2 separate regions of the Homo sapiens genome follow, and region 2 is linked to region 1. A link means that fine-mapping ties the variant in region 1 to the expression of a gene that starts in the linked region. Tissue or cell type: lung. Region 1 holds a variant in brackets; the other region holds the start of a gene. All regions are shown on one strand. Distances are from middle to middle.

The links. PIP is the estimated chance that this variant, and not a neighbour inherited with it, causes the effect.
Region 2: STYXL1 starts here. The variant in region 1 is fine-mapped to the expression of STYXL1 in lung (TOPMed, PIP 0.91).

Annotation. Positions count from the first base shown.
Region 1 is chr7:76,217,738-76,225,838 of GRCh38, reverse strand. All of the region lies in intron 1 of SRRM3 (serine/arginine repetitive matrix 3), which reads right to left. Among named protein-coding and RNA genes, the nearest start is that of SRRM3, 20 kb to the right of the region's middle. RefSeq lists a silencer at 161-361 and enhancers at 706-1,210, 2,549-3,049. The variant CA/A (reference allele first, on the strand shown) is at 3,290.
Region 2 is chr7:76,043,701-76,051,790 of GRCh38, reverse strand. STYXL1 (serine/threonine/tyrosine interacting like 1) reads left to right here and starts at 3,791. Exons shown (of 9, transcript NM_001317785.2): 1 at 3,791-4,129. It overlaps MDH2 (malate dehydrogenase 2), which reads right to left and starts at 3,685. Exons shown (of 9, transcript NM_005918.4): 1 at 3,565-3,685. The coding sequence starts at 3,630. RefSeq lists enhancers at 2,754-3,535, 3,811-3,890, 4,001-4,090, 3,536-4,318 and a silencer at 3,401-3,560.

The DNA.
Region 1 (8,101 bases):
ATAGCATCTTCCTCATAGGTTTGTTGTAAAGGACTAATGCATGGGAAATGCCCTCACAGTACCTAGTATGCAATGAATGTCTCGTAAAAGGCACTGGAGATTAATTATTATTATTATTATTGTAGAGACAGGGTCTCACGTTGTTGCCCAGGCTGGTCTCAAACTCTTGGCCTCAAGTGATCCCCCGCCTTGGCTTCCCAGAGCACTGGGATTACAGGAGTGAGCAAACTCCTCCCTGCTCCCCTTGTCTCTGGCAGCGTCGCAGTCCTCCAGCACCACGGACAGCACCCCCATCACCAGTTCAGGGGGCCCCATTTGCTGCCGGGGCTGAGAAGCCTCTTTTGCCGGGGAAAGGGGCGGGGGGGGCGGGGAGGGGGGCAGCACCGTTCCTCTAGGGGCTTTTTTTTCCTGGCCTTGCCAGCCAGAGGCATGCCTCCCCAGAGGTAATGTCAGGACTCAGAGCCTCCACACGCTCAAAGGTACAGATTCCCACAGCTTCAAGTAAGCACTTGAGCACTTCGTCTGTGGTCACACAATTTAACCACCTTCTTACTTCTAAGATCTTTCTGCTGTCTTCTACTGGGGCCAGGAAAAAGAGTGTTAGACCAGGACAAGGACTTGGAGTCAGAAGACTTTAGCTTAAATTCTGGCTCCACTACTTCTGCCTGGGTGATCAGGAAAAGTCATTAAACTTCTCCGAGCCTCAGTTTCCTCATCTGTAAAATGGAGTGTTGGGATTCGGTCAGGCTGGTGGAAAAAATATTAGTTATGATAGCCACAAAACCCTTTCGGAAGGCCTGAGGGTTTTCACATGACTTCGGTAATAGACCGGGGCGAAGGTGGGCTGGTCCCATTACCTTCAGTTAAATAGATTAGAGTAGTAAATAACGGGATGTGGGGAAGTTATCTAGTTAACTTGTTTACTCATGTGGTCTCAAGACGAGCCTTTGATGTGTGCTTTTTACTCGGGAAGTCCTCAATGTCAATTACCTCTAATGGCGCTGACTCAAGCTTTTGTTAACTAATCTTAATGAATAAATGTGAGTCTCCCTAGCTGATCGGGGCGGCCACAGTGACAAACCTCTCTTGGTGTGTAGGCGGTCACTCAGCAGGACTGGCAAAACAGAATCTCTGTGTATCAGTGTACGTTTTATTCATCATTTGGGTCAGGGTCTGTGGGCAGACCCTCGTAGCTAATACCCTCTTGTGAGGAGCAATACCTCGACGGAGACAATATTCCCTAGTCTTGTAGCTTGTAGCTTAGTGGGATCATTCATTCATCCTTTCTTGCGGTAACAGGCTTGTTATGAAGAGATTCTGATGCCATTCTCCCACCCACCCACCCAGTCCTGCAGGAGCAAAAAAGAGACCAGGGAGGCTCTACCTTTGCCTAGGATGGTCAGGGAAGGTTTCATGAAGAGAATGATGTTAGACATGTGCCTTTGAAAGATGTGTCTTTGGCCGGGCGCGGTGGCTCATGCCTGTAATCCTAGCATTTTGGGAGGCCAAGGTGGGCAGATTGCCTGAGCTCAGGAGTTTGAGACCAGCCTGGGCAACATGGTGAAACCCGGTCTCTACTAAAATACAAAAAATTAGCCAGGACTGGCAGTGTGCGCCTGTACTCCCAGCTACTCAGGAGGCTGTGGCAGGGGAATCGCTTGAACCCAGGAGCGGAGCTTGCAGTGAGCTGTGATCGTGTCACTGCACTCCATCCTGGGGGACAGACCAAGACTCTGTCTCAAAAAAAAAAAAAAAAAAAAAGAGGGAAGGGAAGAGAAGGGAGAGGGAGAGAGGGGAAGTGGGGGCAGGGGAGAGGGGAAGTGGGGGCAGGGGAGGGGGAATTGGGGGGAGGGGAGGGGATGCTCTGTCAAAAAAAAAAGAGGGAAGGGAAGAGAAGGGAGAGGGGGAGGGGGGCAAGTTGGGGGAGGGGAGGGAAGGGGTGGGGAGGGAAGGGAAGGGAAGGGAAGGGAAGGGAAGGGAAGGGAAGGGAAGGGAAGGGAAGGGAAGGGAAGGGAAGGCAAAAGCCAAGGGCATGTTAAGATCCAGGGACCCTTGGCTAAGAGGGCTACAGTGGAATGGAATTTATGATCCAGGAAACTGCATTCCTGTGAAGGTGGTGGCTGCAAACGCAGGATGAGACCTTCCAGAGAAAAAGCCCAGTGTGGTGACAGCAGGTGGGCAAGGATGTGCCTCCTGAGGAAAAAGATTCTTTCCAACTGTCAGAAACGAGACAGAACTGATAAATACCCATGAAACCAGGTCCTTAAGTTGTGAAACTCATTCTGGGTCTTGTTAAAAATAAGTGTGTGCAACAATCGTTTGTCAAGATACTTTATCAAGCTGGAAAAGAAAAGCCATCTGCATCATGTCCAAGGAATCTAGGTGTGTCCCCACTCCAAATCCTGGCATTGAAGCCAGGTGCAGCCATGACAGGGACATATTCCCTGGAGCACTCTCCTGCTGACCCTTCCCTTCCCTGTGTAAGGACCCTTCTGCAGACCTCCAGCCTTGAACACTTTATATTGAAAGCTTCCCCTGTGCTCACTGCCCAAGAGCGTGGGGCTGGGGGGGTAAGGACCAGAGGACCAAGAGACACCCCATCAACTTCAGGGTTGGGTCATTCATTCAGGTCACAGCTATTTGTGAGTGGCTACTCTGGGGTTCACCAGAGGACACGAGAGAAATGCAGAAGGAGAAGCACTGGTGCTTATCATGCTGGGGATGATGGATGCATGGCAGAGACATCTAACAGCTGGGGTGCGTCAGGAGAGGAGCATAGCTAGGAGGTCTCCCTGGAGGAGAGATCTTGAAGCATAAGTAGGAGTTGGCGGGACAAAGGAGGAGGAGAAGGATGTCCTGGTCAGGGTGTGGGGGTGAGCAGGAAGAAGGCATGGAGAGGAAAGAGGGAAAAGCATGGACTTGAAGCTGGGCGCGGTGGCTCAATCCTGTAATTCCAGCACTTTGGGAGGCTGAGCCAGGAGAATCATTGGAGGTCAGGAGTTCGAGACCAGCCTGGTCAGCCTGGCCTGTCTCCACTAAAAATACAAAAATTAGCCAGGCATGGTGGCGGGTGCCTGTAATCCCAGCTACTTGGGAGGCTGAGGCAGGAGGATTGCTTGAACCCAGGAGGCAGAGGTTTCAGTGAGTCAAGATCACGCCACTGCACTCCAGCCTGAGAGACAGAGGGAGACTCCATCTCAAAAAATTAAAAAAATTAAAAAAACAAAACAAAACATGGGCTTGTCTTGCTGAGCCCACTAAGCCAGGAGGGGAGGGAGGGCCAGGTCCC[CA/A]GGGCCTTCAGACTCAGGCTGAGGACCTAGGACCACACCCTGCAGGCAATAGGGAGCCAGTGAAGGGTATTGAGCTGGGGAGGTCAGATTTGCATTTTGGAAAGATCTCTCTTGCAACTTTTTTTTTTTTTTTTTTTTGAGACGGGGTCTCCTATCACCCAGGCTGGAGTGTAGTGGTACAATTATGGCTCACTGCAGCCTCTACCTCTTGGGCTCAAGTGATCCTCCCACCTCAGCCTCCCAAGTAGCTGGCCACTACTACACACAGGTGCATACAACCATGTCCAGCTAGTTTTTAGAAGTTTTGTAGAGACAGGGTCTCACTAGTTTGTCTCTAACTCCTGGACTCAAGCAACCCTCCTGCCTTGGCCTCCCAAAGCTCTGGGATTGCAGGTGTGAGCCACTGTGCTCAACTCTCTCTTGCAACCTGATGCCCTCAGGCCCTTAAAGGATAACTGATAACCCAGTCCACATGAACCAAGACAGACCCGTGCCGATCAGCCAGTAGCAGATGGGTTCAAATCACTTACTATGTGTGCGTAGTGACTTAACCTCTTTCTTATCTGTAAAATGGGGTTAATATAAGTACCCGCACCTCAGGGTAAGGAGTAAAGGAATAACGTGTGTACAGTGCCTGGGTAGGCGATAAGCTCTATGCATTAAGTGTTAGCTGTTATCAGCCATGAACTATGCCAATCAGTCTAAACCATTACAGGCATGAGTTAGACCAGGAGGAAATATAGATCCATATAAATCAGAACAGATCAGGTCAATAATTACCATTTTAAATCATTACAAACACTCATAGCCCAATCATGGTACTTTTCACAGATACAAACCCACACAGACCAGTAGAGACCAGTAGAGACGGGTAAGAAGAGGGCAGGTGCGGGGCGCGGTGGCTCACGCCTGTAATCCCAGCACTTTGGGGGGCCGAGGCGGGTGGATCACAAGGTCAGGAAATCGAGACCATTCTGGCTAATACGGTGAAACCCCGTCTCTACTAAAAATATGAAAAATTAGCTGGGCGTGGTGGTGGGCGCCTGTAGTCCCAGCTAGTAGGGAGGCTGAGGCAGGAGAATGGTGTGAACCTGGGAGGCAGAGCTTGCAGTGAGCTGAGATCATGCCACTGCACTCCAGCCTGGGCGACAGAGCGAGACTCCGTCTCAAAAAAAAAAAAAAAAAAAAAGAGGAGGGCAGGCCCAGTGGCTCAAACCTGTAATCCCAGCAATTTGGGAGGCTGAGGCGGGTGGATCACCTGAGGTCAGGAGTTCGAGACCAGCCTGGCCAACATGGCAAAACTCTTTTACTAAAAATACAAAAATTAACTGGGTGTGGTGGCGGGCACCTGTGAACCCAGCTACTTGGGAGGCTGAGGCAGGAGAATCGCTTGTACCCAGGAGGCGGAGGTTGCGGTGAACTGAGATTGCGCCACTGCACTCCAGCCTGGGCAACAAAGTGAGACCTTGTCTGGAAAAAAAAAAAAAAAAAAGACGGGTAAGAAGACACTGCAGGGAGAGGCCTGGGAGGAGGTGGCTCAGGGAGCGGGCAGAGCCCAGTGAGCTTCCTCCATGACTCCTTGGAGTCTCTCTGGAGAGGCGCTGGTGCTGGCACGGCTGTTTGTTACCCAACCCTCCAGAAGACGCGGTGGGGGGAGGGGAACTGCTGAAAGCCTTGCTTTCAATAATTCAGCAGCTGGAGCTTCCTGCTGCCCCTGCTGGAGCTGGAGGAAAATCTTGGCCAGAGCCCCAAGGCTGGGGCTGGCTGGGGGTGGGAGGGCTGGTTCCTGGAGGGGCAGGCAGCCTGGCTTGCAAGGGTGCGGGCACTGCAGCTCTGTGTTTTGACCATAGCCCTTGTGGTCCCTCTTCTGCCCTCCCCTTTTCAGTCTAGGGCTGGGTCCAGCCATGCCTGGGCAGGACTCGGGCTGACCCTTTCCCTGCCGTCTCAGTCTGTGCTGGGCAATGGAGGTGGCTGGGCTGGCAAAGTTTCCAGGGCCAAGATGGGGTGTCCGGGGCCGGTGAGGCAGAGAGGGCGAGCCTGCAGACCACAGGAGAAAGCCCTGGTGGCTTAGCTGGCAATGTGCCCAGTCCTACGCTATCCCTGTCCAGCTCCACACCACATTCCACTCCACCCAAGAATGCACTGACCCATGCTGTTCCTCATGCCTGGAAGGTTCTTCCTCATCTACCCTTCCTGCAAGACTGCTCAAGCATCACCTCCTCCGTGAAGCCTTCCCTGACTGCCTGGAAGGACTCCCTGGGGGACGTGCCTCTGCTGTCACCCTGTGGCTACTACTCGCAATCTAGCATGACTGTTGCTCCTTGGCTGACTGAGGGCTGTCCAAGGGCAGAGACTGGGCCAATCCACATCTGTATCCCTAGTGCTCAGCACAGGGCTTGGCACAGAGCAGCCACCTGGGACTGTTTGCTGAGACCCCGCCTGTGTTTGCACCGATGGGAGCTCACTACTTATTGTTTTACCACCATCATCTCTGGGAACTACAGAGGGAGAGGTCCTTGGTCACTGCTCTCACTATGCCTAGACTATGTGCATGCTGACATTTGCATGGGCCTCATGGTCATCTACTTTGTAAGCCCTCGAGTCCAGCCTTGTCTTTGTTTGTTTGTTTGTTTGTTTTTGAGACAGTATCTCGCTGTGTTGTCCAGGCTGGAGTGCAGTGGTGTGATCTCGGCTCACTGCAACCTCCACCTCCTGGGTTCCAGCCATTCTCATGCCTTAGCCACCCAAGTAGCTGGGATTACAGGCGTGTGCCACCATGCCTGGCTAATTTTTTGTACTTTTAGTAGAGACGGGGTTTCACTATGTTGGCCAGGCTGGTCTCAAACTCCTGACCTCAAGTGATCCACCCACCTTGGCTTCCCAGAGTGCTGAGATGACAGGTGTGAGCCACCGCACCCGGCCCCAGCCCTGTCTTTGAATAGATAGGAAGGACTTCTCTGGTCAAGGCTCCTGTCTTTGTTGGCTCTGATTTGGGTTCCTGGAGCAAAGATTTGGGTGGCAACCAAGCAGGCTGCCCAGGGCATCCCCTCAGGCTTCTGCTGGGCTGGCTGAGATCAAAGAGAAAGCCGGCTGGGGGCTGGAGCATCACTGACAAGGGACAAGGAGGGACAAGGAGGCCTCCACTGTCTGCTGCCTCCAGAGGAGTCCACAGTACAGGTAATGCAGCCCAGGTGAGAACAGGTAACAATGCTCAGGTGAGATCAGTGCAGATTGATGTAGCCCAGGACAGGTCATACAGAGCCTTGTAAATGGGACAGACCCAGCCAAGCCAGGAGCTCAGACCGACTGATCAACAGAGGACAGTGGGGACACTGCACACCAGCATGACAGACAGCTGGAAGGTATCAGAACAAGCAACACTGGCTACTGAAAGCAATACAGGCCGGGTATGGTGGCTCACGCCTGTAATCCCAACACTTTGGGAGGCTGAGGCAGGTGGATCACTTGAGGCCAGGAGTTCAAGACCAGCCTAGCCAACATGGCCATCTCTACTAAAAATACAAAAATTAGCCAGGCATGGTGGCTGGTGCCTGTAATCCCAGCTACTTGGGAGGCTGAGGCAGGAGAATTGCTTGAACCTGGGAGGCAGAAGTGGCAATGAGCCAAGATCACGCCGCTGCACCCCAGCCTGGGCAACAAGAGCGACACTCTGTCTGAAAAAAACAAAAAACAAACAAACAAAAAGGCCAGGTGTGATGGTGCATGCCTATAGTCCCAGCTACTTGGGAAGCTGAGGCAGGAGAATCTCTTGAACCCGGGAAGCAGAGGTTGTAGTGAGCCGAGATTTCACCACTGCAATCCAGCCTGGGCAACAGAGTGAGACCTTGCCAAAAAAAAAAAAAAAAAAAAAAAAGAAAAGAAAGCAACACAGACGAGTTCAACCTAGTAGACAGATCTGTAGAGGCCAGAACTGATATGAAATAAGCAAGTAGTGGTTTGGTCTCTTCTCCCCTGCATTCTAGAGGAACAAAAGAATCCCTGCCTTACTCAGTCTTCCTGCTCTCTGTCAGGGCCCTCAGTGGCCTTGTGGGAGGCTGAAGCCTTGCCACCAAGAGCAGACAGCTTCCCTGGGGCTGCTGAGCAAGAATGGAGATGGGGGTGGGGTGGAGGGTGGGGAGAATGTTCTACAGAAGCAGCTTCAGCTTAGCCCAAGAAAGAACAGTCTTATGACTGAGCTGTCACCGATGGCAGGTGGCGGTCTCTGTGTCCCGGGAGGGTGCAAATCAGATGGCCTTGGTGGAGATATGGAGGGAGAGCCACCTGTGTGTCAGAAGCCCATGCTCTCTGAGGACCCTCCCAAGCTGGCCTTGAGGACTGACCCTGCAGTGAAATCGGAGAAGCCTGTGTGCTTTACCCAGTTTTCATCACCTCCTTCTCCTTCCCCCAGGATCAGATCCCAACCCCCGCTCCAGGCTCACACCTGGGAGCTAGGCAGAGGAAGGCACGATGGGCTAGAAGTTGTATAACCAGATCCCTTTTCCTTTCTGAGCCTCAGTTTCTCTTATCTGGACCAAGTGTCAGGGGCCTGGATACTGGCAGGGCTTGGGTAGTGTTAGTCTAAACTGCACCATTTTGTAAGCTCCCTGCTATTTTGCAGACCTTAGTCAAAGTGAAACACTTCACAGTGGTTCGGGTCGTGAGAAACATCCTACCTAACCACCTGACCACAAGGTGGACAAAGGCCCGACTGAAGAAACAGCCTTCCTCTTACGATATTCTGCTGGGAGAAAATGCAAGGAGTACCACATTCTGCTGGAACAAGGGCCAGAACTGCCTCATTATTGGGACAT
Region 2 (8,090 bases), 170 kb after region 1:
GTTAACACTGCCTTCATTTATAAGTTTTAACACTTTATAACGTGTTATGGTTTGTTTTAAAATTTCTACTTGAGTTTATATTGTAATGTATATATTAGTACATATACCTATAAGTAAATACATTGGGGCTATGTGCTTCCTACGCTTTTACTGTTAAAGATACAGGATCCAGCTAGGCGTGGTGGCTCACGCGTTTAATCCTAGCACTTTGGGAGGCTGAGATGGGCGCATCACCTGAGGTCGGGAGTTTGAGACCAGCCTGACCAACATGGAGAAACCCTGTCTCTACTAAAAATACAAAATTAGCCAGGCATGGTGGCGCATGCCTGTAATCCCAGCTACTCGGAAGGCTGAGGCAGGAGAATGGCTTGAACCTGGGAGGCGGAGGTTGCGGTGAGCTGAGATCGCACCATTGCACTCCAGCCTGGGCAACAAGAGCGGAACTCCGTCTCAAAAAAAAAAAAAAAAAAAATCCAAAGTCTGGAGACCACTGCACCATGGGCTCAAGCCCATCTTTCTTTCTGCTTTCATCAGCTGCCTTCTCAACAATGTCGCTTGTATGCCCAACAGGCATTTTAAATTGAACATATGAAAAACTGAGATCCTGGCCGGGTGTGGTGGCTCACGTCTATAATCCCAGTACCTTGGGAGGCCAAGACAGGTGGATCACCTGAGGTCAGGAGTTTGAGACCAGCCTGGCCAACATGGCGAAACCCCATCTCTACTGAAAATACAAAAAAAAATTAGTTGGGCGTGGTGGCAGCACCTGTAATCCCAGCTACTCAGGAGGCTGAGGTGAGAGAACCACTTGAACCCAGGAGGCGGAGGCTGCAGTGAGCCGAGATCACGCCACTGTACTCCAGCCTGGGCAACAGAGCGAGACTCTCAGTAAATAAATAAAAACTGAACTCCTGATATCTTCTCCCTGGTTAAACCCACTCTCTTCTATAAGTCTTGCCTATTTCAGCCCAACTCCAAGGCCCAAAACCTTGGTGTCATCCCCGACCCCTTATCTAATCACACATCAGCAAATCCTTCTGGTACCATCAATGAATACCCAGAATTCAATCATTTCTTACCACCTGCACCTAGATAACCACAATGAACTCCTAACCTACCTTTCTCTCACTCCTAAGACCATCTTGTTAAAATGGAAGGAAGAGCAAGTCATTACGCAGCTGAAAACCCTCAACTGGCCGCCCCATTTCTGAGAAAATACCAAAGTTTTACAAGGCCTGTTCTGTTACCTCCACTGCCTTCTCTGGAACTACCCTAGCCTCATTTTCTCAAACCTTCAAGGCATGCCCCATGCTTCTCCAAGGGCTCTCAGCTACATCCTGAGACATATCCCTTACCTGCAATACTCTTTCCATATGATGTGATCTCTGCTTCCTTCAGACTTTACTCAAACATCTCACTCTGCGTGAGGCCTACCCTGGCTGATGTAAAACTGCTACCCTCGGCTGGGAGTGGTGGCTCACGCCTGTAATCCCAGCACTTTGGGAGGCCAAGGAGGGTGGATCACTTAAGGCCAGGAGTTTGAGACCAGCCTGGCCAACATGGTGAAACCCCATCTCTACTAAAACTACAAAAATTACCCAGCTGTCGTAGCCCTTGCCTGTGATTCCCACCTACTCGGGAGGATGAGGCAGGAGGATAGCTTGAGCCCAAGAGTTGGTTGCAGTGAGCCAAGATGGCGCCACTGCACTCCATCCTGGGCAACAGAGTGGGACTCTGTCAGGTCCATCCTGGCCAACATGGTGAAACCCCATCTCTACTAAAAACACAAAAATTAGCTGGGCACGGTGGTGCGCGCCTGTAGTCCCAGCTATTCGGGAGGCTGAGGCAGGAGAATCGCTCCAACCTGGGAGGTGGAGGCTGCAGTGAACCGAGATCACGCCACTGCACTCCAGCCTGTCGACAGGGCGAGGCACTGCATCAAAAAAAGTAAATAAAATTGGTACCCTCTTCCCTAACACAAGCACCCTACAATCCCCATTTTTCTTGCATGTTCATCACTATTTTAAGATACTTTATAATGAGTGGGGCAATAAGTAAAATATCTAGTAATTTCCGTGAGAGCAGGGACTTCTGTGTTTTGTTCACCGCTGTATTTCCAGTACCTAGCTCAATAAATATGTCGGATATCTGAAGGTCCTACCAAAACTCAACCTCTCCCTGGACACCCCTGTCCTCTCTTTGGTTGGCTGCCCCTCCCCCACACCTCATCCCTCCTGTCCTGTTTACTCATTCCCTAAGACCTTCATCGCCTCCACCTGTCCTAAGTTTACTCATTCCCTAAGACCTTCATCGCTTCCACCTGTCCTAAGTTTACTCATTCCTGTCCCATATCAAGTGTCACTTCTCACTTATCTTGGTATCCCCTGCAGCACCCAGCATAGTTGTTGGCAAGCACAGGTACTTAATGTACTTATCTGTATACAGCTGGGCCCCCACTTCACCGCAGCGCAAAAGCATTTGGTACATTCAACTTACAATGGGGTTGCCTGTGGGAACCCATTGCAAGTTGAAAATACACAAAGTTAAACTCGCCTTTTGACTTAGGATATTACCAACTTGCGATGGGTATGGGAAGTAGCCATCAATCCAGGAGCATTTGTATTTATTTTTCAAATGAACTGGATGTACAGGAAACTCGAGAACTTCGATGATAAATTTGGATTCCCCTTTAAAATTACCTCCCTCTTGGGCGTCGTAATTAAAAGGCAATGCGAGCACCTCCTGGGTTCTCAAAATTAGGTTTAATTAGATTCACCTGGTAAAAATGCGGACCCCCCCCCCCCCCCCCGCAGTCTTAAGCTTCTTCAATGAACCCAGACGTCTGTTTTTTATTAGCTTTCTGGTGATTCTGACACACTGCAGAGTTTAAGAACCACCATTCTAGAAGATGGCTAAAAATAGCCTAGGCTCCTAGGCTTAAGTGGTCGCGGGCCAAGTCAAGCACTGTTAAGACACCTGGCGGCAGGCTCAGTCCGCCCACAGCAGGAGAGATCCTCCAAAAAGGTTAAGAGGAAGCCGTCTTCAGGTCAGAAGCGCTGAATTCTAATCCTCTGGCCAAATGACTGTAACCCTGGCCCAGTTCTCTAGCCTCGGTTTGTCCATACTATGGAATTAGGAAGTATACGATTTCTTTTATTCACGCACAACTCACACGGATGCTGCAAGGAGATTAGCTACGTCAAAGCAATGGAACGCTGCAGAAAAAAACGTAAGTTTACTTTCAGATGCAGAGCCCTGGTTTCCCAACCTTGAAGGCGTGCAAGCCAAGAGCAGGTCCTCTGGGAAATCTGGGAGACCTGGGGGAACCCTGACAAATGGACCGGCCCTGGAGCGGGACTACCTCGCCCCCTTTTCCCCGGCTTTCTCCCCCGCACCTCCAGGCCAGTGTCAGGGCCTGCCCCGGGCGCCACAGTCTCCAGCCAGTGCCGGGCATCCCTGCGGTCCAGGCTGGCCTGGAGAGGGTCAGAGCTGCCCGCGAACCGGGGACGCACGTGGCCCGGGCCGGGGGGCCTCCGCCTGCAGGCCGCCCCTCGTCTGGCCTACCTGGGCCGAGGTGCTGAAGCTGCGGCGGAGAGCAGCGCTGGCAGGCCGGGCGAGGGCGGAGAGCATGGCTGGAGCGGGAGGGGCACCGACTGGCAGGCACAGGAGCTGGTGACGGGGAAGTGACTCCAACGACCTCCACACTGCCCAGCGCCTGCTCTCTGGGGCCTCGCGAGAGTGACCGGACTTCCGGTCGCGCTCGCCTCCGGGATCTCGTGAGATCACGGCCACTTCCGGGAGTCGGAAAGGAAAGCTGTGGGACCATCCTGGCAACCCCGGTGTTTGGCTGGGTTCTAGCGTAGCCGTCTGTGTGGCCGGTGGGGGACCTGCGGTCGGAGTGGGAGGGCCAGTCTGCACCCAAGAGGTGGAAGAGGACGGGCTTTAGGCTGGAAGCGCCTTAGAGGAGCCATTTTTCCAGGTGGGGCCCCAGGCAGAGGCTCCGACAGGGAGCCTGGCCATAGTCGCGCAGCCGGGGAGGTGGAGCGCGTCCCAGACCCGAGCCCCCGACCTCAGCCAAACCCATTCCTTCTGCCCTTGGAGGCCAGAGGGGACTCTGAGCTCCGGAAAGGTAGGGTCAGGGAGGCTGAGAGTCCTTAGGCGGGGTGGGAGGAAGGGGCCATCTCCTCAGATCCGGGCCGTCGTTTCCCAAGTTGCAGAGACCCTTGGGTTCAGGTTTAGTGACACCACTGCTGATAATGGCGACCTCCAGCCCTGCAAGCTTTAGAGGACCACTATTCTGTGTTCCAGATGAGCAAATAGGTTGTAGGGACAACAACTTCCGTGGTCATACAGTTCCTGTCTTCTCTCGCCTGCCCGGCAGTGCTCTGACGGTCCCACTGTTTCTGCTTTACGAATAAAGACACTGTGGCTGAGGCCAAGTGGATTTGTAGAGTTTACGCAGACAGAAAGTCGAGTAGAATTCCTTGCTCACAATGAGTTTATTACTTAAATGTATGAATTTATTTATTTTTTTGAGACGGAGTCTCTCTAGCCCAGGCTGGAGTGCAGTGGCGCGATCTTGGCTCACTGCAACCTCTGCCTGTCAGGTTCAAGTGGTTCTCCTGCCTCATTCTCCTGAGTAGCTGGGATTAGCGCACCACTACACCTGGCTAATTTTTTGTATTTTTTTTTTAGTAGAGACGGGGTTTCACCACGTTGGTCAGGCTGGTCTCGAACTCCTGACCTCGTGATCCACCCGCCTCGGCCTCCCAAAGTGCTGAGATTACAGGCGTGAGCCACCGCGCCCGGCCTGATACATATTTTTAAAATTAAACAACACCCCCAGGCAAGGTGGCTCATGCCTGTAATCCCAGCACTCTGGGAGGCTGAGGCGGGCCGATCACTTGAGGCCAGGAGTTCATGACCAGCCTGGCTAACATGGTGAAACCCCATCTCTACTAAAAATACAAAAATTAGCCCAGCGTGGTGGTGTACACCTGTAGCCCCAACTACTCCGGAGGCTGAGGCAGGAGAATCGCTTGAACCCGGGAGGTGGAGGGAGGTTGCAGTGAGCCGAGATAACCCCACTGTACTCCAGCTTGGGCGACGGAGAAAGACTCTGTCTCAAAAAAAAAAAAAAAAAAAGCCGGGTGTGGTGGCTTATGCCTGTAATCCCAGCACTTTGGGAGGTCAAGGCGGGCAGATCACCTGAGGTCAGGAGTTTGAGACCAGACTGGCTAATGTGGCGAAACCCCATCTCTACTAAATATACAAAAATTGGCTGGGCATGGTGGCGTGTGCCTGTAGTCCCAGCTACTCAGGAGGCTGAGGCAGGAGAATCCCTTGAACCCAGGAGGTGGAGGTTGCTGTGAGCCAAGATTGTGCCATTGTACTCCATCCTGGGTGATAAGAGCTAAACTCCGGCTCAAAAGCGCGCGCGCGCGCGCGCGCACACACACACACACACACACACACACACACACACACACACACACACACACACACACACACACACAGCAGATAAGCTGAGACATGCTGGAAGAGTAGGTGTTTCTCAATGGAACATTCAACTCCAGAGGAGGGAAAGATCCCTTGCCTTGGAATCAGAATTCTCAAAGGAGGGGCACTAGGGCCTGAGCATTTAACAATGGGAAATGTTTAGACAGGAAAGGAGGAGAAAAAAGGCCAAATAAAATCCTAGCGGGAAAAAATAAGCATAGGCCAGTATTCAGGGGACAGTGAATAGATCATTTATTTTGGAGTGGGGACATTAGGGCAAGCAGTGTCCTTTGTTTATCTTATCACTGACTGCATCTTCTGGTAATTATTTACTCCTCTGTCTTGTAACTGAGAGCACCTCAGAGCCAGGTATTAAGTCTTGCCAGGTACTAAGTCTTTCTTCTGTTTTTTTTGTCCAACATGCGACTGGGCTGAAAGGGCCTCAGTGAATTTGTGGAGAGTTGAGTGGTTTTAGGTACAGCTGGAAACAGCAGGTTGGGAAAAACTAGATTGTGCCGGTCCCATGAATGTTAGCTGAGAAGTTTGTATTTCATTTCTTGGGAAGCAAGTGTTTATCAAAGGTTGTTTATTTATTTGAGATGGAGCCTCACGCTGTTGCCCAGGCTGCAGTGCAGTGGCGCGATCTCGGCTCACTGCAACCTCCACCTCCGGGTTCACGCAGTTCTCCTGCCTCAGCCTCCCAAGTAGCTGGGATTACAGGTGTGCACCACCACACCTGGCTAATTTTTGTATTTTTAGCAGAGACAGGGATTTGTCATGTTGGCCAGGCTGGTCTAGAACTCCTAACCTCAAGTGATCTGCCCGAGTCAGCCTCTCAAAGTGCTGGGATTATAGGCGTGAGCCACTGCACCTGGCCAATCAGGCTTTTGTGACACTGCCAGAACTGTGTTTGAGGAAGATTAGACTGACCTTGTATGCTAAGAATTCCCAGGAAAAAAAAAATGGAGATTGTTTAGGAATCTATTCAGGGAGATTGTTTAGGAATCTATTTTATGGATGACAAAGGTCTGAATTACGGTGGTGGCCATAGAAATGGAGTGGGTAGGGCCAGTGTGGGAGAAGTCTCATGGGAAGAATGGGTAACAGTCTGTGCTCATCTGGGTTTGAGGAGTGAAAGAAAGAGGTGTGGAAAATACATAAAGAGGGAAGTCGGGTTATACAAAGGAGAGGAGAAAAATAAAGGAGGTTATACCAAAGGAGAGGAGAAAAAATAAAGAGTTCCGTTTTAGATGGGCTTAATTGGGAGTTATGCTGAGTTGTCCATATAGACCTTTCAGTGGTATGGGCCGTGTTCATGCCTGTAATCCCAACACTTTGAGCAGCCAAGGCGGACGATCACTTGAGCTCAGGAATTCAGGACCAGCCTGGGTAACATGGCAAAACCCCATCTCTACAAAAAGTACGAAAATTCTCTGGGCGTGATGGTGTGTGCTTGTAGTCCCAGCTACCCAAGAGGCTGACATGAAACAATCGCTTGAGCTCAGGCGATCGGGGGAGGTCAAGGCTGTAGTGAGCCATGATTGTGCCACTGCATTCTGACATGGGTGACAGAGCAAGATATGTCTCATTTAAGGGGGGAAAAAAGGAACTGTGGGATTGAAACTCAGGCCAGGGCGGAAGTCACCTCTGTAGAGGGGGAGAGTTGAGACCATGAGCAATAAACTGGAATCACAGATTGTCAGGCTCCCTCCCACATCTGGAATTCAGTTTCCTCCACATCCCTCCCAAGTCCTCATCTCCACAGAAGAGGAACTCGCTACCTCCCAAGCCTTCTACTTGGGCCATCCCAAACAACTTGACTGCTAGAAAAGCCTCACATTTGGCCCAGTGCAGTGGCTCATGCCTGTAATTCCACCCCTCTGGAAGGCCAAGGTGGGAGGATCGCTTGAGCCCAGGAGTTCAATACCAGCCTGGGCAACACAGGAGACCCTGTCTACAAATAATAAAAATTAGCCAAGCATGGTGGTATGTGCCAGTGGTCCCAGTTACTCAGGAAGCTAAGGCAGGAGAATTGAGCCTGGGAGTTTGAGGCTGCAGTGAGCTGTGTTTGCACCACTGCACCCCAGTCTGGGTGACAGAATGAGACCTTATCTCAAAGGAAAAAAACATAAAAAGCCTCACACTCAGCTCCTATCTGCCTCTCTCTAAGGAAATACCAAGGTAATTAACAACAGTCTTATTGGCTGCTGTATGAAGCACTGTGTGGTAGGCATTGATTTTACTTGGTGTTTTGCAAGTGAAACTTATATTAAACAAGCAGGGTTTCCACAGTCAAGAAGTAGAATTCAATCATGCAGCAGCTTTCTGTCTTTAAATCTTTGCTTGCCCTTGGATTGTGTCTGGTTACTAGGACAGACTTACTGTCCAGTTCATGTTAATAATCAAAACTAGGAATTTAATTCAAAGGTAAAGCTGCTTCTCTTCCCCTCTCAAGCTTTCTTTGGGCTCCCACATTTGAGGAGGACAGTAGTTGACTTCTGTTTATTTTGTTTCCTCTTCCATCCCACCCCAGCCCAGGCCAACTATGGCTTCTGAGGCATCCTGTGTTGGTGGAGGGGGTTATAAGAGAG